Linked DNA regions of Homo sapiens: region 2 is linked to region 1. Evidence: fine-mapped expression QTL. A gene starts in region 1. The other region holds a variant in brackets. All regions are shown on one strand. Distances are between the middles of the regions.

Region 1 (15,144 bases):
TAAATCAGTCACTAGATGCAGGTTGTCCCTGGAGGGACGTGTGACCTTGGGCGAGGCAGTTTTCTTCAGCTGCATCAGTCCCCATAGGTAGCTGAGATTCAGCTTCCTACAGCATCCCCAACAGTAGGTGGAATAAGTCCCTCATCCCTGAAAGTGGATCTGGGCAGCACGCATCACAGCTTCTCCCATAAAAATTAAATGCAGTAATCCACACAAAGCCGTTCACACAGTACCTGGCATGCAGTAAATGTTCAATAAATGGTAGCCATTACAACTATTGTTGCTTTAGTAACTACTGTCTGTCAGGCACCATGCTAGAGGCTGGGGACCCAGTGGTGATTGACAAGTCTGCTCCTGCCCTCATGAAACTCAATCCATGGACACATTAGACCATCAGACAAGCAATTGCAATTCAGTGCAATTGACAGGGTGGCATGGGATGTATAAGGGAGCATGTTATAAGGAAAATGTTTATTTAGAAACAGAGTGCTTGTTCCTTGGTACGGCAAGGAAAAATTAGCATTTAGACAAAAAATTTTTTTTAGCAAGGCAATTTTACTTTCTGCAGAAAGGGTGCTCCTTGCAGATGGAACAATAGCAAGAGCACACTTGAACAAAGAAGGGAAGTAATTTTTATCCTTTATGCAGTTTGTCTCTGCTACTGTGTCCTGTCTCTATTGGCTGGAGCGGGACCTCACAGTCTAAATTAAATCCGACTTGCTAATAATTTAAAACTTTCTTAAATAGGTAAAAGCAACAGAGAACAAAGGAAAAGAGGAAGTTGCTTGCGAAAGGACTTAGAAAAGTAATAATATTTTTAAATAAGGAAGGGGCACAGGCTGCAAGCTGGAATGTGCCTGTGAGCACGTCTAGTACAAATATCTTGGTTAAAGTACAAGGACATAGACTGTACTTATTCTTTTTTTTTTTTTTTGAGACGGCGTCTCGCTCTGTCTCCCAGGCTGGAGTGTGGAGTGCAGTGGTGTGATCTCAGCGCACTGCAAGCTCCGCCTCCCGGGTTCACGCCATTCTCCTGCCTCAGCCTCTCGAGTAGCTGGGACTACAGGCGACGGCCACCACGCCCAGCTAATTTTTTTTTTTTTTTGTATTTTTTTAGTAGAGACGGGGTTTCACTGTGTTAGCCAGGATGGTCTCGATCTTCTGACCTCATGATCCACCTGCCTCAGCCTCCCAAAGTGCTAGGATTACAGGTGTGAGCCACCGTGCCTGGCCAACTGTACTTATTCTTTTATATCTAACAGCTACATAGGACAAGGCTTAACAAAGAGTTACTAGCACAAAGCAAGGAGGCTTGAAGGAAGTTTAGTCTTTAAAAGAAACTATTATTTTTAACATTTATGATTTATTCTTTAACAAGAAGGGAAGCTTCGAAGAGGAAACTTTTTACTTTCTGCAGAGCACCTATTGGGTTGGTGCAAAAGTAATCACAGTTTTTGCCATAATAGAAGGGACACATGACTCAGACCAGGAGGATGAAGAAGAGAGATGCCACAGGTAATACCTGATGATGAAGGGGGGTCAGCCAGGCAAAGAGAGCGGGAGGCCATTGGGTGTTGGAGAGAAGGGCTCTCCAGGTGGAGGAAGCAGGGTGGGCAGAGGCAAGGGCAGGCTGTGTCAGTGCCTGCATGATATGGTGCAGCAAGGCCAGCCAGAGTGCACACCAGGCTGAGGGGAGGAAGGTCTTGTGTACACCAAGCCAAGGAGTGTGGAGTCAACAGAGAGGCATTAAAGAATTCTAGGCAGAGAAGGGGCAAGGCCTGTTTTGTGCTTGAAAGATTGCTCTGGCTACCATGTGGGCAACGAATTGGAGATGAACAAGATTAGAGGCTGGTTTACGTGACCAACTGCTTACGCACACACACAGACACACACACATACACACATACACACACACACACACAAAGATTAGAGTCTGGGAGATCCATCAGGAGGCCGTGCCAAGATCCAGATGACAGGCAAAGGTAACCTGGACGGGTTGGTGGCACTAAAGACAGACAGGAGTTCACAATCAAGGAATATCTAGGAAGTGGAATCCACAGATTTAAGGATAATTAAATGGGCCAGGCACGGTGGCTCACATCTGTAATCTCAGCATTTTGGGAGGCCAAGGCAGGAGGATCACCTGAGGTCAAGAGTTCAAGACCAGCCTGGCCAACATGGTGAAACCCTGTCTCTACTAAAAATACAAAAATTAGCTGGGCATGGTGGCGGGTGCCTATAATCCCAGCTACTCGGTAGGCTGAGGCAGGAGAATCGCCTGAGCCAGGGAGGCGGAAGTTGCAGTGAGCCGAGATCACGCCACTGCACTCCAGCCTGGGTGACAGAGCAAGTCTCAAAAAAAAAGGATAATTAAATGGTGAGGGGCAAAAGAAATTTAGGGTTATGCTTAAGCTTCTGATCTGGGCAGATGAACTCCAGGAGGCCTAAAGAGGGAGTGTCTGAGGGCCTGGAGAAAAGAAAAAGCCACCGAGGACAGACATGATGCTCAGTATTCAACGTGGCTCAAAGCAGCTTCTTCCAGCCAGCTCTCCAAGACTTGTGTCTCTGTTTTAGACAAACCCTGCGGAAGTCCCTAGCGGAGGATAACTCTTCTGCGGTGAGCAGGTCTATGCACACCTACCCTCAAAGGCTGAGGAAACTGAGAAGCTGAAGAAAGAGGTGGACAAATCCAGTTTCTCAGAGAGAAACACTTAATAGGGACTTACAAACACAAGCCATGTCCTGGATGGCTGCAAGACAAGATGGCGGGTCCCTGCACTGTTACCCTGAAGTCCCAGGGCTTGTATACCACAGGGAATTCGCCACAGGCAGGATTTATAGTAAGTATGTGTTTACAGTAACACCAACGTTATTTTGACCGAAGGGTAAGTATGTGAAAATAGAAATCTTAGAGGCATTCCTGGAACGGGTTCATCAGAAACGAACATGGCAGATGAGCATCCAGGATGGAGCTGCTTTAGCCTCCAGAGCAACTGTCAGAAGCAGCTATGTTAATCCCAGAGTAACCTGCTTCCTCCCTGCTGCTTCTTTCAGGGGAAAAATGGCCAACACCACTTTCAGTATTTGTTTGTTTATTGAGACAGAGTCTTCCTCTGTTGCGCAGGCTGAAGTGCAGTGGCGTGATCTCAGCTCACTGCAAACTCCGCTCCCCGGGTTCCAGCGATTCTCCTGCCTCAGCCTCCCAAGTACCTGGGATTACAGGCACCCACCATCATGCCCGACTAATTTTTGTATTTTTAGTAGAGACGGGGTTTCACTATGTTGGCCAGGCTGGTCTCAAACTCCTGACCTCAAGTGATCCCCCCCACCTCTGCCTCCCAAAGTGCTGGGATTACAGGCATGAACCACCACACCCAGCCTCTGTGTTTATTTAAACTGTAGTTACTTAAACTGTAGTGGAAAGCAAATTGAGCAAGGAAGAAGATAGAAATAAAATTTCACTCTGGATTCAATCTTCGATAAACATCAACATTTATTGAATATGGACTCTGGGTTCAGGGCTGCAGACATAAGGAAGCATAAGGCAGACACTGACTAGTGAATTTGGGGGTCTAGTTCCTTCAACAGTAATATTTCCTATGGGAAACTAGTGCACTGACATTCGGGTTTATACACCTGTCTCTAACATGTTTGGTGACCTGCATCAGTCCCTGGGGCCTGATCATCACTGGAGTTACTGGACTCCAAAGCGGATAAGCATACTTTTACAAGTGAGAATCATTCCATTGGAAATGATAGGCAGGCCTCTCTGGCATTTTCTCCAGAAGGAGTAAGCTGAGGGCAGGAAGGGGCAGAGGTATTGACTGGGGTTCGAGGATATTCTCTGATTCCGAATTGAAAACTAGGCCCAATATTAGTTCAAAGCGTTTCTGGGGAAGGGAATGAGTCAGTATGTCTAAAGATCTAAAATGTCACCTCCCAAACATTCTCTCTTTCTGGAACACAGTCTCTCTTTCCCAGGGGAATTGGGGTGCTCATTGACGTTTGTTAAATAAAAGTTATAAGAGGTCACTGTTTTGGACTAAGCTCCTGCATTTGGCCTTAACAAACCCGACGAAAAATCAGAAAGGAGTCACTCATGCTAAAGTTCCACATCACCAAACCAAAACCAAGTTGTTATCTGACTTTCTGAGAAATCAGGAGAGGTGATAGTCTAATTTCCCAAACAGGCTACTTTCGAATGAGGGGTGAGGGTTGGGGAGTGACAGGAGGTGGCTGGGGGCACCAACTCCGTGCAGTCGAAAATCCCTGCAAAGCTGGGCGAGGTGGCTCATGCTTGTAATCCCAGCACTTTGGGAGACGGAGACGAGTGGATCACTTGAGACCAGGAGTTTGAGACCAGCCTGGCCAACATGGCAAAACCCTGTCTCTACTAAAAATACAAAAATTAGCCAGGCATGGTGGTGCACACCTGTAATCCCAGCTACTCAAGAGGCTGAGGCAGGACAATCGCTTGAACCCAGGAGGCAGAGGTTACAGTGAGCTGAGATTGCCCCACTGCACTCCAGTCTGGGAGAGAGAGCAAGAACCTGTCTCAAAAAAATAAATAAATAAAATAAATAAAATAAGAAAAGAAAGGAAAAAAGAAAATCCCTGCATACTTTTTTGTTTGTTTGTTTTTGAACTGGAGTCTGGCTCTGTCGCCCAGGCTGGAGTGCAGTGGCATGATCTTGGCTCACTGCAACCTCCGCCTCCTGGGTTCAAGCAGTTCTGCCTCGGCCTCCCGAGTAGCTGGATTACAGGCATGTGCCACACGTCCAGCTAATTTTTGTATTTTTAGTAGAGTTGGGGTTTCACCATGTTGGCCAGGCTGGTCTCAAATTTCTGATCTCAAGTGATCCGCCGCTTGGCCTCCCAAAGTGCTGGGATTACAGGCGTGAGCCACCATGCCCCGCCCCTGCATACTTTGAATCTCCCAAAACTACCAATAGCCTACTCTTGACGGAAAGCCTTGCCAATAACATGAACAGTCAATTAACACATATGTTGTATATGTATTATATGTATTCGTGCAATAAAGTAAGCTAGAGAAAAGAACATGTTAAGAAAATCATAAGGAAGAGATTTTACATTTACATAAGGAAGAGTAGTACACTTACTACTCATTTAGTGGACGTGATCATCATAAACGTCATCATCCTCATTATCTTCACGTGGAGGCTGAGGAGGGGAAGGAAGAGGAAGGGTTGATTCTCCTGTCAAGGGGTGGCAGAGACAGAAGAGGTGGAGGAGGTGGAAGGGGAGACTGGAGAGGCAAGCACATCGGTGTAACTTTTATTGAAAAAAAATCCATGTACAAGTGGACCTGCTCAATTCAAACCCATGTTAAGGGTCAACTGTACAGTAATCTGAAGTATGTAACCTGATGTTACATTTCTCTCAATCATTTCTCTCTTTCTTTCTCTCTCTTTCTTTTAAAGAGATAGGGTCTTGCTCTGTCGCTTAGGTTGGCATGAAGAGCAAAATCATAGCTCATGGCAGCTTCAAACTCCTGGGCTCAAATGAGCCTCCCACCTCAGCCTCCTGAGTAGCTGGGACTACAGGCATAAGCCACTGCACCTGGCTTATTTTTTGTTTATGCAGAGATGGGGGTCTTACTGTGTTGTCCAGGCTGGTCTCAAACTCCTGGACTCAAGAGGTCCTCCAGTCTTGACTTTCCAAAGTGCTGGCATTATAGGCATGAGCCATGGTGGCAAGCCCTCATCAGTTATTTTTCTATGATTCTGTCTCTCTGTCCCCTCCTTACAAGGAAAGTAATTTTGAAACAACCAATCCAGTCTTGGTTCTTTGTTTCTGCTTTCTTCAGCCCTTCTCTGTCTATAAAACCAACCTCTTCTGCTCAGCTCATGGGAGCACTTATTCTAATTTAATGGAGATGTTGCCCAATTTCTAGAATCACAAATAAGATCTTTAACAATAAAAGTTAAAAAATGAAAATCAACAACAACAACAACAAAAAAGATCTTTAAATGTGTTGTAATTTTCTCCTTTGACAGGTTACAAGTGCAATTGAATAAACCAAACAAAAAATGTCATGGTTATTCGGTCTTTACTTCCCAAATCAGGGTCAAGATATAAGATAGCAAGAACCAATCTCTACCATAAAAAAGATCCAGACCCAAGAAAATGTGATTTATCTTTAAAGCTGCAACGAAACTTTCTTTTTAGTCTAGGAGACTAAAAGCCATCAGTTGATACAATCTCTTTTTTTCTTGAAGTTTCCAAAGGAAGGCAGGTGAGTTTGCACTGACTTCCATTTTCTCCCTGGCTTCCTTCCGGTGTCAGATGAGAGTCCCCGCGCTCCTCCCGGACAGCCCTCAGGGTCCTCGGCTATCATATATGGGGGAGGGGGTGGAGGTGGGCGAGATGGTTTTGTTTGTACAGGAAGGACGGGCGGCAGGCACGGGGAGCACGGGCTCCGGCCCCGGGAACACTCACTCGGCGCAAAGGAGAGGGAGAGAGCGACTATGAAAGCCGAAACCCGCCCGGGGCGCACGGAGGACGGCCCCAGTCCAGCTCGTCCGGCTTCCCACCCGCAGGCGGACCCCGAAGCCGCGCCCGCGCCCGCCCGCGGCGACTCCGGCCCGGGCACGCGCACGAGTCGGAAGGGGGAGGGGCGGGAGGAGGTGGGGGAGGGGCGAGCGGGCCGAGGCCCCGCCCCCGCTCCTCTGCCCCGCCCGCCGCGATTATAGCCGATGACTCAGGGCGGAGCTCCGCATCCAACCCCGGGCCGCGGCCAACTTCTCTGGACTGGACCAGAAGTTTCTAGCCGGCCAGTTGCTACCTCCCTTTATCTCCTCCTTCCCCTCTGGCAGCGAGGAGGCTATTTCCAGACACTTCCACCCCTCTCTGGCCACGTCACCCCCGCCTTTAATTCATAAAGGTGCCCGGCGCCGGCTTCCCGGACACGTCGGCGGCGGAGAGGGGCCCACGGCGGCGGCCCGGCCAGAGACTCGGCGCCCGGAGCCAGCGCCCCGCACCCGCGCCCCAGCGGGCAGACCCCAACCCAGCATGAGCGCCGCCACCCACTCGCCCATGATGCAGGTGGCGTCCGGCAACGGTGACCGCGACCCTTTGCCCCCCGGATGGGAGATCAAGATCGACCCGCAGACCGGCTGGCCCTTCTTCGTGGACCACAACAGCCGCACCACTACGTGGAACGACCCGCGCGTGCCCTCTGAGGGCCCCAAGGTGAGCCGGGCCCGCGGCCCGCCCTGGTCGGTGGCGCCACCTCGACGGCAGGCGGCGGGGAGTGGGCTGGGCCGGGGGGACGCGAGGCGGCGGGGCCCGGGGGTCGGCGAAGGCCCCTCGCGGGCGGACACCGGCTCCGCGCCCCGCCACACACTCCCGCTGCGCCCGGACGAGTCCCCGCTCCGGACCCGCCCTTGACAGGCGTCGGGGCGAAAGGAGGCCCCGGGATTCGGTGGCCCGGGAAGCGACCCCGCAGTGGCTCCGGTGCCGTCCACGGCTCGACTCCAGGGCGGAAGGCCGGGTGTCCAGCGCTGGCCTCGCGCTCTAGGGCTGGGAGAGGGGCGGCCGGCCTGGTCAGCTCCGGAGGCCCCGGCCCACCGTGGCCCCTGCTGCCCGCTCGGCCTCCGGGCCCGGGACCCGCGGCGCACCCTGCTGACCGCGGACTCGAGGGGGACACTCGCAAGCTTGGATGGTGGTTTTGGGGGGAATTTTACCGCTCAAGTTCTCCAACTTGGTTGAGGGGTATCTTGGCTACTGTCCCATGTTAGGCACCCAATGACTCTGGAGGCTGGTGTCAAAACATTCATATATATATGTGTGTGTGTGTATTTTAAATTAAAATTGTATTATTGTTTGAAAGTGCTTTCAATATGAACGTATCCTAGTATGATTTGTAAAATAAAAAACAGGGTGTGCTTCTCCCCAGCAGTTTCTAGAGATCTAGACTAGAGATCTGAGACTGTCTTACAGTTGGCCATTGCCTTACCACATTGCCTCACACTGGAGAGAAAGAGAATGATACGTGTATATTTATAATGGCATTCGCTTCCTGCCTTGTTATGGTATTAAAATACTTAGGATTTGTTACCAGTACACAAATAACTGACTAATGATACTCTTGTGAATACAGCAGAAGTATGTCTCATTTACATACATGCAAGGATATATACTTCTTAATCCCCAAGAGCATGAAATTTGAAAATGTAAATTTGGAATGAGTGTGTTAATTTTCAAAAATCAGAGTTAGTTATACTATTCTTTCAATTTTTTATAAATTTGAGCTTTCAGGATAAAAAGTTTTTAAAATAAATATGTTATACTTAAAGCTGAATTGTTAACGCCGTCTGGGCAAGATAAAAGCAGCAAAGAGCTGGTAAATTATTTTGAAGATTTAAAAACTCACCAAATTAAAACTGCTGTGTAACCCATTGTTTTAGAAGAAAGACCTGTATTATTTCCCTTCATCTTTATGCACTTTTTGTTTTAACAATATTGATAAAACTCCGGTGCCCAGCAGTGAGACCGTGTACAGGCAGCAGTTTACATTTACGAGAGATTAGTTGTATATTTATTCTTGAAAATTAGTACAAGAGGCTGTAATTAGCTGGGATGGGCACAGTTACATATACCTTTTTGTGTGTCTGTTCCACCCATTTTTGGGTGAAACTGACACTCATTTCAAACCACCTTTCTTAGGAGTCTGCGTGGATGTACATGATCTTTAGTGTGGTTTACAACTATTATTTTGAAGCCTTCTTCCTGTAGACATAGGGATAGTGGTATCTGTTGGCAGCCTTTGTTGTGAGTGAAGATCAAGTTTGAACATAAACATTCCCAGCACTTTGTTCTCAGCATGAAACTTACCCAGCAAGTTGAGATCTTCCTGTACCCACCTGGTGCATGGGTTAGGCTGTGATTTCATAAACCTTATTAAAAGAAAAAAAGCAGGTTTAGTTACCATTATTCTTGTCAGCAAATACAAAGAACTACTAAATCAGAAGTCTGATGCTGGGAAGATTTATTTGAAAATTTCACGGTCAAAATTTTAAAGTTGAAATGTCCTTGAAGATCTCTTATGTTAGGCTTCTTTATTTTCTGAAACCCAGAGAGTTCAGGTGTGACTTTGAAGGTCATCCAGCTAGTACCAACAACAGGGAGAGAACTAGTGTCAGGAAAGTCCTAATAAGAGGCAGTGTGTCTCTTCAGAAGTTGGAAGTGAGTGTTTTGGGAAACTGAGGCATGCAGGCTAGAATACTTGATTATTTTTGTGCCCTCCTGGCCACCAAGTTATTGGGTCACTGACCTCTGTGCTGAGGTTGCTTGGATTTTGATGATGGGACTGATGAACTCAAGAAAAGAGTTCCCTTTACCAAGTGAATGACTTGAGACTTGTCAGCATGGCACCAAAACTTAAGGAGAAAACTAACATTCAGCCCATGAGCTGTTTGTGCTTCATTGCTTTCAATCCTGTGCTTTGACACACACAATATCAGGTTGCACTTGTGTGAGTTACACCTTACTGGAGACTAAATGTAGTGGAAAATCCTTGAATATCATTTTGTATTTGAAATTGGCTTCTCAATGCATAATGAGAAAAAGGCCCTTGCAGAAAACAAAGGGCGATTTTGGAGGAGCTGAGCTGAGGCCCGTCTGAGCATCATCATCTTCAAGAGGAAATGCTGTCAATCAGTAAAAAGCTGTTCATTGAGCATGAGGAGCTCAAGAGACGACCTCTCTTTTGGGGGAGGACTCAGCTTCAGGATGTTTAAAATTTAATCACGTTAGTAAGAAAATGGAAAGAAAAGACTAGACCTTTGTATTTTATTTCGTCTTCTACTGCCGTCTTGCAGTTGATCTTCCGCCTTCTCCTGAAGTAGTTAGGACAACTCCCTGTTTTCACAGAGGGGCAGAGCGAAAGCAAGTATCTTCTGTCATTGCTGAAGCAGGACGGCTCCCGGCAAAGATGCTGGGCTTCATCCAGCCCCATTCTAAGCAGCTGGGCCTCCCCACCTGCAGTCTTCCTGGATTTTGATTTTCTGCACACTTGGGCTTCCCACTAATTTGGCAAGTTCATACCAGTCCAGGCCCTTTCCTGGCAGAGGATGGCATTCAGTGCTGGTGCAGCCACTCCTCCAGGCTCCTCCCTGAATAAACAGAGGCCGGATGTTCTGGAGTGCTGTTCCCGCCAGGCCTCCTTGGGATGAGAGGGAGACCTTCCTCCCTCATGGAGCAGGGCCGCTCTAGCTCCATGGATCTTGGGGGTTACCAGTCTGGCACTCTCCAGGGAGTCCTGTTAAGAACACAGATTGTGGCTGTGTCTCATCGCCTCCCTGCCCCAACCCCATGTTCAAATCTGAATTGCTCAGTGTAGGGCCCAGAAAACTATTAAGTCCAGAAAGCTTTTTTGGTGGTTCTGATTCTGCTGCACTGGCAGTGGGAGCCACGGATGGCCAGTGATCCCATTTTGGGGAGGAGGAGCTGCGGCTTAGTGCCTCCTGAACATCTATCCTGCAGAGCATTTTCCCAAGCCTCCATTTTCCTTCTTGGGGAAACTCCCCAGGTACGCGGGCTTCTGGAGGTGTGAATATGGGGATGACATGGGAAGCGAGCCGAGACAGCACCTTGCAAAGTCTGGCAGGGTGGCTGGCAGTGCGAGAGTGGGGAGGTGGTCCAGAGATCTTCCTGGACCCCAGGAAGAAGCAAGCCAGAGCCTTTTCTTTTTGTCTTGCCCATCTGGCAGAATCTCACCATAATCATTTAACAGATTATACTCAGGCACTGTGACAGGGAGATAGAAACATCCTTTCAGATAACACTGGAAATGTTTCGAGTTATGATTGAAGTAGAGAGACCCATTTATTTTGCTTAAGGTTCAGCAGAGCCTCCTGAATTTTCTTAAAGATGAGATCGTTTTGCTCTTTCCAGATCTATTGCAAGCTGTTATGCCTCTTAGCAGAGGCGGAGCACAATCAGGAAATGAGTGGCCGTTCTCTCCTTCGTATTTCCAGCAAGTTGCAGTTGTGGCTGAGCAAGTTCCTGTGCGACTGCATGAAAGTGATTTGTTGGGGGGCAGATGAACAGCATGGCCAGATGCCTTGGAGCCCAGCTCATCCAGGACTTTCATTTTCCCCTCTGAAGAACAGCCTGTGTTGTTCACATGAGAACCGACTGCACCTCCGAGAACATCATTTGTCCCGTTTTGTAGGGTAGATTTGCCCTTTATGAGGGTGGAGCCTGTACACAGGACCTGCGGCAGCGTTTGACGTTGGCCAGGGCTGGGAAGGCTTAACTGTTGGATGCTATCAGGGCTGCTTGTGAGTCAGAAAGCTTCATACCACCCATGAGGCTTGCTTAGTGCTGTCCTCGTTTCTGGAATGACACACAGTCACCTTATATAAACCACTCTACATGTTTATTACTTTCTATTGACATTTAAAAATGATGTTCTGATGTTTATCATCCAAAGTAGAAAACCATTCATCATCCAGACCTACTCTTTCTCCTTTAAGTTTTGCTGTTTTAATATTGCTCTTAAATGTTTAAGAGAGCTTACAGAAGAAACTGAAGACAAAGGCCTTGCTTATTAGGATCTTTGAGACCCTCTGGCACTGGCGAACACGAGTGAACCCTGTGTCACACTTGACCGTGTTATTCTCCAGCCCCTCCTGGGTTCCCTTTTGTTGTGAGTCAAGTAGACACCTCTGATCTGCTTCTGCCTCAGAGCATAGACTCAGCTGGCCTTCTTTTTTTTTTTTTTTTTTTTGAGACGGAGTCGCACTTTGTCTCCCAGGCTGGGGTGCCGTAGTGCGATCTTGGCTCACTGCAACCTCCGTCTCCTGGGTTCAAGCGATTCTCCTGCCTCAGCCTCCCAAGTAGCTAGGATTATAGGTGAGCGCCACCATGCCCATCAGCCGGCCGTCTGAGGCAGGCTCCAGAGCCCCTTGTTTTGCAGGTGCAGGATTCATCTGTATGCATCATGTGGCACATGTGATACCATGTGAGGTATCTGGTGTTACTAAGTCGTCACGTATTTCGATGAAGGTATCTTTGGGACCTTGGCAGCCTTTTAGGAAGCCAGGCAGCTTGCAAAAGCTTAGGAAGAATTTGGGGGGAGAGGAATGAATGTAGTATTTTTCTGTCTGTCAACACACACACATATATATATATATGTGCCAGATATGAGTGGGTGCTTTTGGTAACCTTATCTCTAAATCCTCACCAGCTCTTTGAACTAGAAACTATGAAGTGTCTTACACATGGGACAGCAGATTTGGAGAGGCAGTGTGCCTGGCCTGTGATAAACAGAAAGACTTCTGTGGCTTTACCCCCATCTGAGTTCCTGAAGGGGTGACAGACAGACTTGCCTTTAGCGGGCCTGGCTGCTTTATACTCCCCAGGCACGGCTGCTTTATACTCCCCAGGCACAGCTTGAGGTGATAAACAGCCCTGAGTCCATCTTTGTATAGTTAATCAGAAATGTTGGCCTGTTTCTTGAACCTGGGTCTGGATTTAGGAGATGGGCCCGACTCTTTACTCACTCCTTTACCCCATCTGAAATTCACTGAGTGCCCACAGTGTGCGAGTCACAGTGTTAAATGCCATATAGAGGACAAGTCTGCCCACTTTGAGACTGTTCTCCACAAAGCATGTCCTGCCTCTCCCTGGTCCGAAGCAGGCTGTCTCTCTTCTGGAACCCATATTATTTTAATTTGAATCTTTTTGCTTAAGCTCTGCACTTTTCTGCTTTGTCTTGGGGTCACACCCCTGTTAGGAGTTCTGGGGCAGAGTCTGTGTGCTTCATCGCTGCCTCTTGATGCCTGGCAGGGTCCACAGGCTCAGAAAAGATGGAACGAGTGACTGTGGAGAAGGGTAGAACATGGGCCTGCCCAGAGCGCGAAGGCAGATACAGAAGAGCTGCCCGTGAAGGATGCAGGTGTGTCCCGGGAAGCCTTCCATTGGTTCCTAAGAACTGCAGAGTTGTCCTGGGCTCCTAAAGGTCCCCAGAGGCCTGCTCCTTTTTGTCACTTTGTGAATGGCCTTCTCTGCACAAAGGACTTCAGTATTGATTCCCTAAGTTCATCCTTACAGGTCTGGAGAAGCTCTTTTTTGTTTCTCCCAATGACACAGCATCTTACAGCAGGGCTGGAGAGGCTGGGAGCTGGCAGCAGCCAGACCCTACTTCCATAGCTGTGCAGAGAGCAGCCCCTGGCACTGTGAAAAGAGTCTCTTAAAAATTTTTTTTCGTGTGGCTGGCAGCAAGATCAGACACCGTATACGTGAAGGTTCTTATTCACTGTCAATTCAGAAAAGCCTAGAATCGCAGAGTGCCAGCTCTGTGCGTCAGGAGCCTGTAAACAGCTCAGCTGTCCAAGAGCTCCCAGCACAGAGCTGTGCCCCAGTGAACTGGGGAGACTTTTTACGGAAAATTCCTTAGCATTCAATTGGAGAACAAACGTTTGCTGTTTTAAAGTATCTTCCTCAGTGTTTATTAAAGTAGAATTATATATTTTTTTCAGTTATTTAAAAAATTCTTCCTTGACATTGAATGAATGAATAAATGAATGGATGGTTTAAAAATTCATACAGTGGGAGGATGGGAAGGCCCCTTCATGTGCAGAAGAAAAGCCAGCCCCTTCGCTGGCCCACCCTTTCAGGGTCAGTTCAGACCCCCAGCATCCCAGCGGGGTTAGCACTCCTTCCTGGGTTGGACGGTGTCTTCCCCGGTTCTGACAGCGCTCCATGCCGGGCGTCCCTGCAGTCTTGGGGCTGTGGTGACTCAGAATTAAGCTGAGTGCTCTCACTCTCGTGTACCCTGCCTGGCTGGCCTGATGACTCAGCATGGAGCGCTGGCTCCCTGACCCAGAGCACACTTGAACTGAATGTTCCAGGTCTGAGCCTCAGCCGAGCGTGGCTGGGCGAAATGGAAGCCTTTCTCTCCTGCTGCCTCTCCTGCTGCATTTTACCCCGGGAGATGAAGGTTTTGGAGACGTTAGTGACACATGGATGTTATCACAGTGTACAGCTGTGACAGGAGTAGCAGAAAGGTTAGCATCTACCTGGCCTTACCATCAGACAAACCTGGGTTCTAGAGATCTTAGGCAAAGCACTTACCCTTCTTGAGCCTCAGTCTCCCGTTGTGTGAAGTGGGCATAGCAACACTTCTGTTAGCAGGGTTGGGAGAATCAAGGAAGATGGTGTGTGGGAGGCGAACGTCCCAAAGCCTGAACTGATGCATGCGTGGAACTCCCGGAAACATATGCAGCCTGCTCTGTGGAGTAGAAGTGTGTTTGTGGATAGGTGTGTGGCCTCTCCACACAGCAGACTGTCCTGGCTGTCCGTGGGCCTTTCAGCTCTCAGAGAGGCCTGGGGTCTTGTTTCTTAGAAGCAAGGCCTCCTCTTATCCCCCTTGTATGGAGTGTAGCTGACTCCCCCGACCAGTGTCCAGGTGGCCCTTGGAGCCCTCCCTGGGGCTTCCCGTGCCCCTTGTGAGTGGAGGATGTAAAGGAACAGTAACAGATGAAGCTGCGGGGCCTTCGGGAGCCTTGACCCAGCTGCCAGACCCTGCGCCATGCGTCCATAGATGCATCTCCCCATCCTCTGCCCAAGATAGGCTGGGTCCTTGTGTCCTCCACTGTGCTGTGTAGAGCGCTGGCTTTACTCAGCCTCAGCTCCTCAAGGGGAGGGTCTCCCTCAGCTGTGTCTGTGCAGCCGCAAAGTACCAGGCAGGAGCTAGGAGCGCTGCCTGTGAGGGGGGACATCAGCCCACCTTACTGAGGGGCCGATTACCTGCACAGCTCTTCTGGACCCAGCTCTCAGGGGTGTAAATGTCACCGCAGATGGAAGGAAGGAGGGGTTTTCCAAGTGCCACCACCCTCTTCTGGGGGGTGTGGCTGCTGTGGACCGAATGCTTGAGAAGCCACTGCAGGTGGGAGCAGAGCCCCCCCGGGACTCAGGGGTCTCACCGTCCATCAGAGAGGGTCCCCTTGCCTGCATGGCAGCTGATGAACTGAGGATGTTTTTCTTTTGGAAATTGTATTTTGTACAGAATACACGTCCGCTGATGTCCTGTACACTGAGACCTAACAGGCACTTGTAGGGTCGTGTCTGGAGGATGGACTTGCCAGGTGGCTGACCATTCCATTTAGCATGGAA
Region 2 (15,144 bases), 32 kb after region 1:
TGATTGACTTTGAAAATCTTTTATACTATTAAACTTTTTTTAAAAAGCCATTTCTCAGTTTTCTTTCTAATCTGTACTAGCTACAAACAATTTCTGTGACTTTCAGTCAGTTATTAAAAATATATTTTTGTGTCCTTTTTTCAGCAGCCCATGACCCATCGAGAAACTGCACCTGTTTCCCAGCCTGAAAACAAACCAGAAAGTAAGCCAGGCCCAGTTGGACCAGAACTCCCTCCTGGACACATCCCAATTCAAGTGATCCGCAAAGAGGTGGATTCTAAACCTGTTTCCCAGAAGCCCCCACCTCCCTCTGAGAAGGTAGAGGTGAAAGTTCCCCCTGCTCCAGTTCCTTGTCCTCCTCCCAGCCCTGGCCCTTCTGCTGTCCCCTCTTCCCCCAAGAGTGTGGCTACAGAAGAGAGGGCAGCCCCCAGCACTGCCCCTGCAGAAGCTACACCTCCAAAACCAGGAGAAGCCGAGGCTCCCCCAAAACATCCAGGAGTGCTGAAAGTGGAAGCCATCCTGGAGAAGGTACAGGGGCTGGAGCAGGCTGTAGACAACTTTGAAGGCAAGAAGACTGACAAAAAGTACCTGATGATCGAAGAGTATTTGACCAAAGAGCTGCTGGCCCTGGATTCAGTGGACCCCGAGGGACGAGCCGATGTGCGTCAGGCCAGGAGAGACGGTGTCAGGAAGGTTCAGACCATCTTGGAAAAACTTGAACAGAAAGCCATTGATGTCCCAGGTCAAGTCCAGGTCTATGAACTCCAGCCCAGCAACCTTGAAGCAGATCAGCCACTGCAGGCAATCATGGAGATGGGTGCCGTGGCAGCAGACAAGGGCAAGAAAAATGCTGGAAATGCAGAAGATCCCCACACAGAAACCCAGCAGCCAGAAGCCACAGCAGCAGCGACTTCAAACCCCAGCAGCATGACAGACACCCCTGGTAACCCAGCAGCACCGTAGCCTCTGCCCTGTAAAAATCAGACTCGGAACCGATGTGTGCTTTAGGGAATTTTAAGTTGCATGCATTTCAGAGACTTTAAGTCAGTTGGTTTTTATTAGCTGCTTGGTATGCAGTAACTTGGGTGGAGGCAAAACACTAATAAAAGGGCTAAAAAGGAAAATGATGCTTTTCTTCTATATTCTTACTCTGTACAAATAAAGAAGTTGCTTGTTGTTTGAGAAGTTTAACCCCGTTGCTTGTTGTTCTGCAGCCCTGTCTACTTGGGCACCCCCACCACCTGTTAGCTGTGGTTGTGCACTGTCTTTTGTAGCTCTGGACTGGAGGGGTAGATGGGGAGTCAATTACCCATCACATAAATATGAAACATTTATCAGAAATGTTGCCATTTTAATGAGATGATTTTCTTCATCTCATAATTAAAATACCTGACTTTAGAGAGAGTAAAATGTGCCAGGAGCCATAGGAATATCTGTATGTTGGATGACTTTAATGCTACATTTTAAAAAAAGAAAATAAAGTAATAATATAACTCAAAATGGTTTTTGTGGTTTCTAAATCTTTGAAAGCAGTGGCATCATGGAGATTGTCTGTCCCTGGTTTCAGTCAGAATAAATGACAGGTGCATTTAACAAGCCTGCTTTGGGTTTTGTGACGTCTCCAATAGCCCGGCTCAAGAGAGAATTGTCTTGGTCACCTTTCAGTCTCAGATTGCAACAGGAACCTGGGAAGACTCAGGGCTGTGAACTCCGGTAATGGGAACATGCCTGCTGCATCCGTTCGGACCGACCCAGCCAACAGCCAAGGTGCCAGTTAGGTAGCATGTCTGCCCACCTGTCCTCAGGCCTCACCAAGAAGCTGAGATTGTCCAAAAGTGCCCAGAGGGCCTGGCGCAATGGCTCACACCTGTTATCCCAGCACTTTGGGAGGCCAAGGCAGGAGGATCCCTTGAGGCCAGGAGTTTGAGACCAGCCTGGGCAACATAGCAAGACCCTGTCTCTACAAAAAACAAATCAGCCAGGTGGTGGCATGCGTCTTCAGTCCCAAGCTACCAGGGATGCTGAGACGTGAAGATAGTTTAAGTCCAAGAGATGAGGCTGCCGTGAGCTGTGATCCCGCCACTGCACTCCAACCTGGGCAACAGAGTTGAGACCCTGTCTCTAAAAATTAAAAAAGGAAGCGCACAGGGAAGCCAGCTCCCACTATTGCCCAAGGCTGGCCAAAGTGTTCCTTGGAGTCTAGGTCACTGGGGGTTGGAAATGTGCTCTGAGAATCTTGGGGTCATCTTTATTAACACCTTGTGAGTCACCAAACCAAACTGAGACCAGATTTATCTTCCTGGATTGGGTTCCTAGAAGCCTCTGGAGTTAGGGACGAGATACACTCAGGCCTGGGTAGAAGGAGATTCTTCTTGCTGTGCCAGTGGCTTTTTTTTTTTTTTTTTAACCTTGGGAGGGACCACAGCCCCACAGCATGGAGATGTGCTGGATTTGTTTATTTTTTATTTTTATTTTATTTATTTATTTAACTACTTGCCAAATAAAGTGAAAAGAGAAAGGCCTGAGACCTTGGAACTCTCAGTGAAGTGCTGACTTAAGAGCCCCCGAGCTGAATTTCTCATGACTGTATTGAGTTTAATACTGGTGCCTGACGATGCTGCACAAAAATACACCCTGGTGTGCTTGCCACTGTTAGCCTGCTGAGGAAGGCTGAAGTCATTCCCATGGGAATCTGCCAACATCATTCCTGGGTGAACTCATTTGGGGAGTACAAGCCGACATGCCACTGATTCTAGAAACTCGAACATGTAAATAGGAAAAAAAAAAAAAAATACTAGACTATTTTAAAAATGAACCAGGCTGGGTGCAGTGGCTCATTCCCGTAATCCCAGCACTTTGGGAGGCCGAGGCGGGTGGATTACTTGAGGTCAAGAGTTCGAGACCAGCCTGGCAAACATGGTGAAACCCCACCTCTACTAAAAATACAAAAATTAGCCGGGCGTGGTGGCATGCACCTATACTCCCAGCTACTTGGGAGGCTGAGGCACGAGAATTGTTTGTACCTGGGAGGCAGATGTTGCAATGAGCCGAGATCACGCCACTATACTGCAGCCTGAGCAACAGAGTGAGACTCGATCTCAAAAAAAAAAAAAAAAAGAACCAAAGATGATGTGACCACTTCTCTTTGGGACTCAATGGACCTCATACGACGTTAAGCCTCCTTGAGTGGTTACTGGATTAGGTTGATAGTATTTTTATCACTAAACATCATCAAATAAGTAGCTGTTTAATGTGGTTGGAATATTTTCAATCATCCAAATGAGACATGCTGTGGGCATCAGGACGGGAGTTATCTGGCCTGTGTTGGTGGCCCCTGGGCCTTGTGTGGGGAGCAGGGCATAGAGCTAGCTGTACGCTCTTGGTGACACAACTGTCTTGGCCCCTGTAGGCATTGGGGGGCTACAGCCACTGAGCATCTACC[G/A]AGTGTCAGGGCTATTTCCTGCGATGCCTGCTCAGGCCCTCTCTATCTGCTTTTCCAAATCTTCCGACTCCATTTTTTTTTTTTTTTTTTTTTTGAGATGGAGTCTTACTCTGTCGCCCAGGCTGGAGTGCAGTGATGCAATCTCAGCTCACTGAAACCTCTGCCTCCCGGGTTCAAGCGATTGTCCTGTCTCAGCCTCCCGAGCAGCCGGGATTATAGGTGTGCGTCACCCCGGCTAATTTTTGTATTTTTTAGTAGAGATGGTTTTTTGCCATGTTGGCCAGGCTAGGCTAGTCTTGAACTCCTGACCTCAAGTGATCTGCCCACCTCGGCCTCCCAAGTGCTGGGATTACAGCTGTGAGCCACCATGCCCAGCCTCCAGATCTTCCCACTCTGAGGCCCACCTTGGGTTGAAACTTTCCCCACCTGGACCACGCATTCCTTCTCAGACTCTCCCTTCCCAAAGCTCCTAGCACCCTTCTGTGCATTTGCCAAAACCCAGTTGTTTTCTCAACATCCTGAGTCATTTCCTCAGCAAGACAGAATCCCCGGAGGGGTGGCAGGTTCATTCCGACACTTCCTTCTTCCCACATTGTTGTCCAGACCTGGGCACAGAAGCACCCTGGATGGTCAGGGAGTGCTTAAAAGTCCCTTCCACTTAAGATGTTAGGATTCTAAGGCTAAATTGATGTTCCTGCACAAATAAATACCTCTTTAGGAGCTGTGAGTTGAGGGCCAACTCTTTCACCAACTTTCATAATTCCCAGATATGTAATTTATTTAAGTTAATTTATGTAAGTAATTTCCTCTCTCTGTGCCCTTTGCTCTCATCTGTGAAAGGAGGGCCTTGCCCAAGGGCCCTCTTGGTGATCTGGATGTTTCTGGCAGGTCTGCACTTGGCTACTGTTGTGGTCTCTGCCTTGGTATTTCTCCCTTAGCAGCCTAGCCAGGAAGCATAGCGTGGAGCTCCATTATGGGCTGTGCGGTCCTGCAAGCCCCTGTGTGAGTGTGGCTGGCCGGCCTGCCCACTGTCTGTAACATTATACAAATGTAATCGAATGCCAACGGACAGGATCCAGGGTTGCAGTTATTTTGGGATGTGCAGGAGCCTGTGGGAAAACGCTGGAACATGTCTTAGTCACTTGGGCAAATACCTTTCTTTCCCTGTTCCAGCGTGTTTTGAACTTTCAGGCAGCACAAAAAAAGCTCCAGCAGGCACACCCACCCTTGGTGATTCCGGTGCCCTTACACATCCTGTGGCTCTGAAAAGTGTGAGTGCAGAGGGCTGAGAGCGGGGCTGGGGAAGCCCTAGACACCCACCTATGGAAAAAATTGTAGCGCTTCCCTCAATACGTAATTCAAAATAAAAACAACAAAAGAAACGTAAGGAAGATGTGCAATTCCCACTTTATACTTTGTTGCTTCCTAAAAATTGTAAAATTTCCTCCACTCATGCGTATGTGCGCTTGGCCAGGTCCCTGCCTTCCTGGTACTCTGTTGTCCAGCACTACCCAGTAAGAACCACTGGAGACCAGGAAGAGCTCCATCAGTCCCCGCGGAGCATCTGAGCAGGTGAGGAGGTACAGGACCACAACAGAGGGCAGCAGAAGCCAGCAATGGTGCCATCCTGCGCTTGGTGGAAGGGATGAGGAGGCAGCCACAGGTCCTCTCGATGGACAGTGTTGCCCCCGCACCTCACACGTGGGCCCAGAGTTCCTGGTGCAACTAGAAGCCAGCCTGAAGGTGTGAAGGGAGTTGGAAAAAGCATTCCAGATGGAAAGGGTCTTTTTCTAAAACATTTTCTTGCCTGTCCTTGCCTTCTCTAGCCAGAGCTTTGCCCTAGGATCTGGCCGGCTGCATGGAGGCTGAGGAAGTTCTCCTCTAGTTTGAAGAGGGGAAATCCTTCTGCCAGCCCCTCACTCACTGTCTTCCACTTCATCTCTTTCTCTCTCCAATGGCTCTTTTCTTGTCCTTAGCCTACAGAAAACACAAACCAAAAAGAAATGCTTCCTCCTCACTTTACCCCCTGCCCCCACTTTTCTTTTTCTTTTTCTTTTTGAGACAGAGTATTGCTCTGTTGCCCAGGCTGGAGTGAAGTAGTGCAATTTTGGCTCACTGCAACCTCTGCTTCCGAAGTTCAAGCAGTTCTCCCACCTCAGCCTCCCGAGTAGCTGGAATTACAGACATGTGCCACACACCCAGCTAAATTAAAAAAAAAAAATCTATTTTTAGTAGAGAAGGGGTTTCACCATGTTGGCCAGGCTGGTCTTGAACTCCTGACCTCAAGTGATCCACCTGCTTTGGCTTCCCAAAGTGCTGGGATTACAGTCATGAGCCATCGTGCCCGGGTCACCACCCCCAGCTCACCACCCCCACTTTCTGATCACATGTCGTGGAAGAGCCAGCTAAGTCCCCTCACCTCCCACGTCCTGATCCACCTACAGCCATCCATTCCTGCACCCACCCCTACCGAAACCACTTCTGTGGGCACACTGTCACTGGTGTTATGCAATGTCTCCAGCTCTCCTCCCCAGCAGGCTCTGACTCACCCTCTTCCCTTGCCCTCTCTTCAACATCAAGGTCTCCAGGGTTCCTTCTTCAACCACCGCTCTTCCCACCATGTGAGGGTGTTTCAGGCGGCACCTTGGCTGGACCATAGCACCCAGCTATTTAACTCCAGCACTAGATGCTGCTGAGTAGATATTCTACAGACTTGGTTAACATCTACCATCGGTTGATTTCTCCCGGAGGAGAAGAAATTCTGCCTCAAGACTACAGCATCTGCCCTGGCTGAGTTTCTAGCCTGCTGCCCTGCCCTGACTTGCCCTGCCCTACAGCTTTCCAACTTGTCTGTCCCCACAATCATGTGAGCCAAATCCTTAAAAAAAAAAAAAATACACACATGGCTGGGTGCGGTGGCTCATGCCTGTAATCCCAGCACTTTGGGAGACTGGGGAGGGTGGATTGCTTGAGCCCAGGAGTTCAAGACAAGCTTGGGAAACATGGCAAAACCCCATCTCTATTTATAATAAAAATTAAACCCACACACACATACACATCCCCACCACACAAGCGCTGTATATGTGTATTTTGTTTCTCTGGCGAACCCTGACTGATGCATACTGTTCACACTCACCGGTTCTCCAGCTTCCTCCTCCCAGACCCCAGTCATCTCTGGGTCTGTTTCTGATACCCTCTTTTTTTCTTTCTTCTTTTTTTTTTTTTTAAAAAAGAGTAGAATTCATATTTTGTTGTCATCCAGATGGCAGTTGGGTTTATAGTCTCCATACTTTATACTTTATGTAAATAAAAATAATTACAAGTTTTAAATAGCCAATGGCTGGTTATGTTTTCAGAAACCATGATTAGACTAATTCATTAATGGTGGCTTCAAGCTTTTCCTTATTAGCTCCAGAAAATTCACCCACTTTTGTCCCTTCTTAAAGAACTGGAAAGGGCCAGGCACGGTGGCTCACACCTGTAATCCCAGCACTTTGGGAGGCTGAGGCGGGTGGATCACCTGAGGTCAGGAGTTCGACACCAGCCTGACCAACATGGAGAAACCCCGTCTCTACTAAAAATACAAAAATTAGCCAGGCCTGGTGGCGCATGCCTATAACCCCAGCTACTCGGGAGGCTGAGGCAGGAGAATCACTTGAACCTGCGAGATGGCGGTTGCTGTGAGCTGAGATTTTGCCATTGCACTCCAGCCTGGGGGACAAGAGGAAAAATCCATCTCAAAAACAAACAAACAAACAAACAACAAAAAAAAACTGGAAGGTTGGCATGCATTTGACTTCACATTCTGAAGCAACATCCTGACAGTCAGCCACATGTACTTCAAAGAATACCATGTTGGAATACTTTTCAGAGAGGGAATGAAAGAAAAGCTTGATCTTTTTGCAAGGCCCATACCACGTGGCTGAGAAGTCAACCATGACAAATTTATCACCTGCAGCCTCCAAGCCTTCCTGAAAAGCAACCTTGCTCTCAATTTGCTTCACCATCTTGGCTGCTAGGGTCTGAGGAGCAGCTGTAAGAACCGATGGAAACGGATCCAAAAGTGCCGGATCGAGCTTGGAGCTCTGGTACCCTCTTTCTCCTGAATGCCAAACTTATCTATGCCTACAGGGCACACAGAAAGGTGAGCATTCAGCTGATATCCTCTAGGAACCTGGAATTCAAATCCTGGGGTCCCCTCAGGGATCCCCCAGCACTGAGTCAGCTCTATCCCAGCACAAGCCTTCCACAAGGTGCGATCCCACAGTTCACAGAGGCCAGCCAGGTGGAGGATTGACAGAGCCAAGCTGTCACAAGTTGGATGTAGTCTGGGGGCAGAGCCAGGGACTGATGCTTGGCCCCACGCAGCAATTGTCATGTGGGGCATTGGTCCAGCGTTACAAGAGATTTCCAATTTTCCAGAAAGACCAGAAATTTGTTCCTGTGAAATCTCTCAATTTTTAATTTTTTTTTTTAAGATGGAATTTCACTCTTATTGCCCAGGTTGGAGTGCAGTGGCGCAATCTCTGCTCACAGCAACCTCCACCTCCCTGGTTCAAGTGATTCTCCCATCTTAACCTCCCAAGTAGCTGGGATTACAGGCACCCGACACCATGCCCGGCTAATGTTTGTAATTTTAGTAGAGACCAGGTTTCACCACGTTGCCCAGGCTGGTGTCGAACTCCTGACCTCAGATGATCTGCCTGCCTTGGCCTCCCAATGTGCCGGGATTGCAGGTGTGAGCCCCAGCCTGACAATGAAATTTTCCCATCAAGAGGTATTAAGGGAGGGACAGGCTTCATGAACCCTTTAAAAAAATGTTTATGTCACTTTTCACTCAGGGCAATGAGTGCTTACTTGCCCTACATTTTCATAACCAAAAGAGTACACACAAGACTCTTGTCTAAATGTGACTGTTCTCAGCCAACTCTGTCCACCCTCTGACACTGAAGTAGCTGACATAATTTAAAAATGTCTCCCAAAAGGTGCCCAGTTTCATTAACATTTTTTGGAGATAATTTTGACTAATTATTGGGTCACAAATTTCCTTCAGACAAAAAAAGACAAAAAGGCCCATTATCCCAAATATATACCTTTCAAACCCTTAGGATTTAAAAATACTAAAAACATGGTAACTTCTCCATGTTTGTTTTTTGTTCCTTATATTTCACTCTAACGATCAAGATACAAGAAAATACATAGAGGCGATCGATAGCTACCCTGATTTGATCCTATGCATTTATACATGTATCAAAATATCTTCAGGATAAGAACAACTATAATATATCAATAGAAATTTAAAAATTAAAGAAATTAACAAAAGAGTCTGTGCATGGTGGCTCACGCCGGTAATCTCAGCACTTTGGGAGGCCAAGGCAGGTGGATCACTTGAGGCCAGGAGTTTGAGACCAACCTGGACAACATGGCGAAACCCCGTCTCTACCAAAAATACAAAAAAAATTAGCCGGGCGTCATGGCGCATGCCTGTAATCCCGGCTACTTGGGGGGCTGAGGCTGGAGAATAGCTTGAACCCAGGAAGCAGAGGTTGCAGTGAGCCGAGATCACGCCACTGCACTGCAGCCTGGGCAACATAGACTCTGTCTAAAAAAAAAAAAAAGTAAGAAATTAACAAACAAAAGAAAATATATTGTTTAAAAATAAAATTACATTTCATAATTATTGCACGAACAGATTTAAGGATAAAGTTTCCAGTTAGAATGAAAGAGAGAAGGCATGTGTTTACAAACAAGCACGAGGCCCAAGAATAACTTACTGATTAGTATAAAATGTAAATGGTTGATTTTGCACAAATGCGATTTTTCTTTCTTTCTTTTTTATTTTTTTGTGGTCCACTGGAATGAGAAACTCAAAATCTTTCTTTAGAGCTAAGGCTTTTTTCTTCAATCGACTTCCTCAGGTTGAAAGGAGTTAAGGCTTTACCAAAGCAATTTGAAGGTTTGAAATCTCCAGGGAGATTGATTTATGAGTACAGTACACGTTAAGGCTACCTCTGACCTTGGCAGATTGTGGCTGTTAAATTAGGCCCTGGAGTCCTGAGACAGGGGCTCTTCATCTTAGCCTCCTAGCCTCCTTAGTATCTCACTGTGTGTCAGCAATTCCATGAATCCCATTGGATTCATGAAATTTCATTCATGGAATTGGATTCCTACTCATGGAATTTAATGTAATTCCATTGGATTCATGGAATTCCACTTCAGTTCTGTGATTCTCAGTAATATTTCTTTCTTTTTTTTTTTTTTTTTTTTTTTTGAGACAAGGTTCCTCTCTGTCACCCAGTCTGGAGTGCAGTGGCACGACTTAAGCTCACTGCAACCTCCGTTGGCCTCCCTGGCTCAAGCAATTCTCTTGCCTCAGCTTCCCCAGTAGTTGGGCACCACCATGCCCGGCTACTTTTCGCATTTTTCGGTAGAGAGGGGGGTTTCGCCATTTTGGCCAGGCCGGCCTCGAACTCCTGACCTCAGGTGATCCTCCCACCTCGGCCTCCCAAAGTGCTGGGATTACAGGCGTGAGCCACCGTGCCTGGCCAGTTCTGTGATTCTTTGGAGTGCCATGGCGCCATCTCGGCTCACTGCACCTCCGCCTCCCGGGTTCAAGCGATTCTCCTGCCTCAGCCTCCTGAGTAGCTGGTATACAGGTGTGTGCCACGACGTCAAGCTGATTTTTGTTATTTTACCTGAGACGGGGTTTCACCATATTGGCCAGGCTGGTCTCAAACTCCTGGCCTCAAGTGATCCACCTGCCTCGGCCTCCCAAAGTGCTGGGGCTACAGGTGTGAGCCACCACACCAGGCCTCAGGTCTGAGGTTCCTAATTCAGGACTCACCCGCACTAATTGAAACCTGAGGTGAGGGATTTCTCCTCGCTGACCAGTAGGGGGCGCGTCGTGACTGCGCCTTCTGCTTTCACTCCCCGCGCAGGGAAATCCTGTCCTGCTCTCTCAGGGAGCAGTTCCTGACGGTGGGCTCCATTTTATAATAGAATGACTCACCTGAAGAATCACTTCTTTCATTATTTCGTATTCCTCACAATACCAGTGACACACAAAGGCTTTATTTGAAAAACCAAGTAAAGGAAACGAGCACAGGATGTCTGTGCTGGTCTGGTCGGCGTTTATCTCAGCTGGTGAGAACGCAGCCACGCCTCTGTTCACACTGTCATTCCTCCAATAAATAAGATATCCCTGTTTTCTAAAGTCAGGGAGATTTATGAGTCAGAAGTAATCGGATCCACAATCTGATTAGAATTCTATCCTCATAACGGGAGCTGACCGCATCCGCATCCATTTGTGGTCCGGCCCAGTCACCACTTGGTTGGTGTTCTAGCACTATAAGCCAGACTGTGGGGTGGGGGAAGGTGAGTGCTCCCCGCACTTTAATGCCGGGCTTATTTTTCCCTAAGGACCAGGATCGAAATAATGTTAACAGGAAAAACATGCTTCCTCGTATGAGACTGCAGTATTTCACCTTGTATGAGAAAGGAAAAATGAAGGGTGAGACCTGCTTGTTTCTTACATAACTAGGGAGAAATCCATCCCCCCTCTCACCCCGTAGCTCTTCCTGGTGGCAGTAATGATCAGAACCGGGAGTACCCAACTTCTTTCATGCTTGGGGGACTAGAGCTGCCCCCTCCATGCAGAATGGGCAAAGTAAGGGCAGAGGAGATCCATTAGCATCACAATAGGCCTAAAGCCTGCATTTGAAAGCTTCAAGAAAAGACTGAGAGGCAATCTCTTGCTGTTTCCCCTAAAGGCAGATTGGCAGATCAGTCCTCCTATCCGGAGCAGCTAGAAAAGCTGGCAAAACAAACAAGACCTATCTGAAGGTGAGCCGCCAAGGGGGTGAGGATTTGAGGGTCAAGGTCCTGGAGAGAAGGGTTAGCAGAGCTTTGAATTTTGAGGCATTTGCCTATTTCATGAGGCAGAGAAGCTCCCAGCAGTCTCATGCTAAGGAAGGAAGAGCTCAAGTAGTCGCCGCCAGCTTTCAACTTCCAAAGGGCCTCACCCTTTGGAAGGAACAGGAATGAAAATAGAGAAACTCTCACAAAGACTGAAACCCAGCTTCCCATTGGCTTACCGTTTGACTGTGTTACAGGAAAGGGGTCTTGATCCAGACCACAAGAGAAGGTTCTTGGATCTGGAGCAAGAAGGAATTCAGGGTGAGTCCATAGAGTAAAGTGAAAGCAAGTTTATCAGGAAAGTAAAGGAATAAAAGAATGGCTACCCCATAGGCACAGCAGCCCCGAGGGCTGCCGGTTGCCCATTTTTATGGTTATCTCTTGATGATATGCTAAACAAAGGGTGGATTATTCATGCCTCCCCTTTTGAGACCATATAGGGTAACTTCCTGATGTTGTTATGGCATTTGTAAACTGTCATGGTGCAAGTGGAGTGTGGCAGTGATGACAACCAGAGGTCACTGTTGTCACTATCTTGGCTTTGGTGGGTTTTAGCCGGCTTCTTTACTGCAACCTGGTTTATTAGCAAGGTCTTTATGACCTGTATCTTCTGCTGACCTCCTATCTCATCCCATGACTTAGATTGCCTAACCTTCTAGGAATGCAGCCCAGCAGGTCTCAGCCTTATTTTACGCAGCCCCTACTCAAGATGGAGTTACTTTGGTTCAAACGCCTCTGATAATTGGATTAGGGCAAGCTTTCGCAACCTCAGTGCTATTGACACTGATAAATTGACATTATCAGTGGACCATCCTATGCAATGTTTAGTATTCCTGGCTTTTAACCACTGGATGCCAGTAGCACCTCTCCTTCCCCAAATTCTGACAACCAAACTTTCTCCAGACATTGCCAAATGTCCCCTGGTGGGGAAAATCACCTGTGGTTGAAAACCACTGGATTAAGGGTGCCTGCCCAGACCCCAACTGCCTTCCAGAAGCAAAAATAAATCTTACTATCATCTAGGGCCTCAAATTATATCTGTAATTTTTCATACATGATATGCAGCACTTAATAAAGAACAAAGCTTTAAAATACATAACAAAGTTGACAGAACTAAAAAGAGAAATAGACAAATCCACAATCATAGTGGGAGATGTTAAGACACATTTCTGAGAAAATGATGGACTAAGCAGAAAAAAAAAATCAACAAGGTTAGGGTAACAGGGTAAACTACGGAGAGAAGTATCTGGAGGAAAAGAGAAAGGTATCAGGTCTGGGTGCGTGAAAGAGGGGTTGGCAGGAAGGGGGGTATTGAGCGCAGATGGAGAAATGGAGAGAAAAGGAGGGTCTTTGTGGGCCCCCTCTTTCTGGAGGCTTAATTCTATAAGACCTTTTCCGCATGAACGGTACAAGGGAACTGTGTCGTTTCCTTTGTTCCTTCATCCAGACTATACTGGCTGCTCTGTGAAATCTATCTGTACCTCCAGTCTGCCGGAGGCATGTGAACCAGAGCAACTTCACCTTGAATAGGAGCTGGGTAAAATGAGACTGAAACCTACTGCACTGCATTCCCAGAAGGTTAGGCATTCTAAGTCACACGATGAGATAGGAGGTCAGCACAAGATACAGGTCACAAAGACCTTGCTAATAAAACAGCCTGCAGTAAAGAAGCTGGCCAAAACCCACCAAAACCAAGATGGCAATGAGAGTGACCTCACTGCTACACTCCCGCCAGCACCATGACAGTTTACCAATGCCATGGCAACATCAGAAAGTTACCCTATTTGGTCTCAAAAGGGGAGGCATGAAGAATCCACCCCTTGTTTAGCATATAATCAAGAAATAACCATAAAAATGAGCAACCAGCAGCCCTTGGGGCTGCTCTGTCTTTGCAGTAGCTATTTTTTTTTTTTTTTTTTTTGAGATGGAGTCTTGCTCTGTCACCCAGGCTATAGTGTAGTGGCATGATCTTGGCTCACTGCAACCTCCGCCCCCCTGGGGTTCAGGCAATTCTCCTGTTTCAGCCTTCTGAGTAGCTGGGTCTACAGGCGCGCGCCACCACGCCCTGCTAATTTTTGTACTTTTAGTAGAGACAGGGTTTCACCATACTGGTCAGGCTGGTCTCGAACTCCTGATCTCAGGTGATCTGCCCATCTCAGCTTCCCAGAGTGCTGGGATTACAGACGTGAGCCACCATGCCCGGCCTTTGTTTTCTTTTCTTTTCTTTCTTTTTTTTTTTTTTTTTGAGACAGAGTCTCACTCTGTCACACAGGCTGGAGTGCAGTAGCGCGATCTCAGTTCACTGCAACCTCTGCCTCCTGGGTTCAAGCGATTCTCCTGCCTCAGCCTCCTGAGTAGCTGGGATTACAGGCGTGCGCCACCACACATGGTTAATTTTTGTATTTTTAGTAGAGATGGGGTTTCACCATGTTGGTCAGGCTGGTCTCGAACTCCTGACCTCATGATTCTCCCGCCTTGGCCTCCCAAAGTGCTGGGATTACAGGCGCCTGGCCACAGTAGCCATTCTTATATTCTTTACTGTCTTAATATACTTGCTTTCACTTTACTCTGCAGACTCACCCTGAATTATTTCTTGCGTGAGATCCAAGAATACTCTCTTGGGGACCCCTTTCATTGTGGACTCCGTAGCAGCCAGTGGGGTTTGGGTTGGCAAAGACTAGTGAGGCGGCCAAAAGGGTGGTAAGCACATTCTGATCAACTGGGAGAGTGTCTCCAGCAGAGCTGCAGCCCTCCACCCCTGCCATGGAGGTGCTACCAGGTGTCACTAAACTTAGAGAGTCCTATGGTCTGAGGCAGTTTCAAAATTGAGAGACAGTAAGACTGAATATTTAATTCCTGTCTCATCTCTCCTCACTGTATTTTAGCAAGAAGTACTCCAGGATACAGAAGAGGAGCCTGTCCTACCTGGATTACACAGGTATATTGATACCTACTATACGGCAGACATTATTCTAATTGTTGCTAAGAACAGAGAGTAGGCCAGGCACGGTGGCTCTTGCCTGTAATCCCGGCACTTTGGGAGGGCAAGTCGGGAGGGTTGCTTGAGCCTAGGAGACCAACCTGGGAAACGTGGTGCGACCTTGTCAGTGATCCTGAGGTGAGAGGATCACTTGAGCCCAGGAGTTCGAGGCTGCAGCAGTGAGCCATGATTGTGCCACTGCACTCCACAGCCTGGGTCATAGAGTGAGACCCTGACTCAAAAAAAAAAAAAAAGAAAAGAAAAAGAAACACAGTGAGTTTAAGACTGGAATATAAAGATGGGTAAAGCCTATCCATTGTCTTCAGGCCTAATAGGGGTAAGGGGGTTAGGGCAGTGAATCGAGTAAACCAGCAGTTTGAATACGGTATGCTGGGGCAACTCAGGACAGAGCACAACAGGCTAAGAAGATGAAGAGTAATCGGGTGCTGGAGGGGAGAGAGAGAGAGAGACAGCAGATAAGGGGAATCTAGTTAAGAGTCTGAAACGGGAAGAGGATCTTCTGGGGAGCAGGAGTATTGTGAACAAAAGCCTGCAAGTGTGAAAGCATGAAGTGCATTCAGGGAAAATTGTATCCCACAGGTATTACTGAATGCCTACTCTATACCTGGCACTGTGCTAGGAGTTCAATGTACCTCGACGAACAAGACTCAGTCCTTCTCCGCAAATTGGTCAGGGATCTTTAGTAGGGCAGATTGAAAAGGAATGGGGAGCCGTTCTACAGTGAGCTGTCTGGAGGAGCTGGGGCATAGAGTGTTTGCAAACAAGTAATGAGTAACGGCCAGGCGCG

Direction of the effects. Positions count from the first base shown, and alleles are read on the strand shown. Sizes are in standard deviations (SD) of each study's normalised expression.
In carriers of allele G in region 2, the expression in sigmoid colon of the gene that starts at base 6,737 in region 1 tends to be higher than with A alone (small effect, 0.19 SD a copy in GTEx).

Evidence for each region.
Region 2: its variant is fine-mapped to the expression of BAG3 in sigmoid colon (GTEx, PIP 0.95).

The regions. Positions count from the first base shown.
Region 1 is chr10:119,644,644-119,659,787 of GRCh38, forward strand. BAG3 (BAG cochaperone 3) reads left to right here and starts at 6,737. Exons shown (of 4, transcript NM_004281.4): 1 at 6,737-7,212. The coding sequence starts at 7,033. RefSeq lists enhancers at 5,875-6,829, 6,210-6,289 and a silencer at 6,490-6,789.
Region 2 is chr10:119,676,320-119,691,463 of GRCh38, forward strand. It overlaps BAG3 (BAG cochaperone 3), which reads left to right. Exons shown (of 4, transcript NM_004281.4): 4 at 145-1,500. The coding sequence ends at 963. LOC124902513 (a long non-coding RNA gene) reads right to left here and starts at 6,352. Exons shown (of 2, transcript XR_007062312.1): 1 at 5,992-6,352; 2 at 4,831-5,419. It also overlaps the pseudogene TXNP1. RefSeq lists a silencer at 7,388-7,567 and enhancers at 10,317-11,253, 11,254-12,190. The variant G/A (reference allele first, on the strand shown) is at 3,443.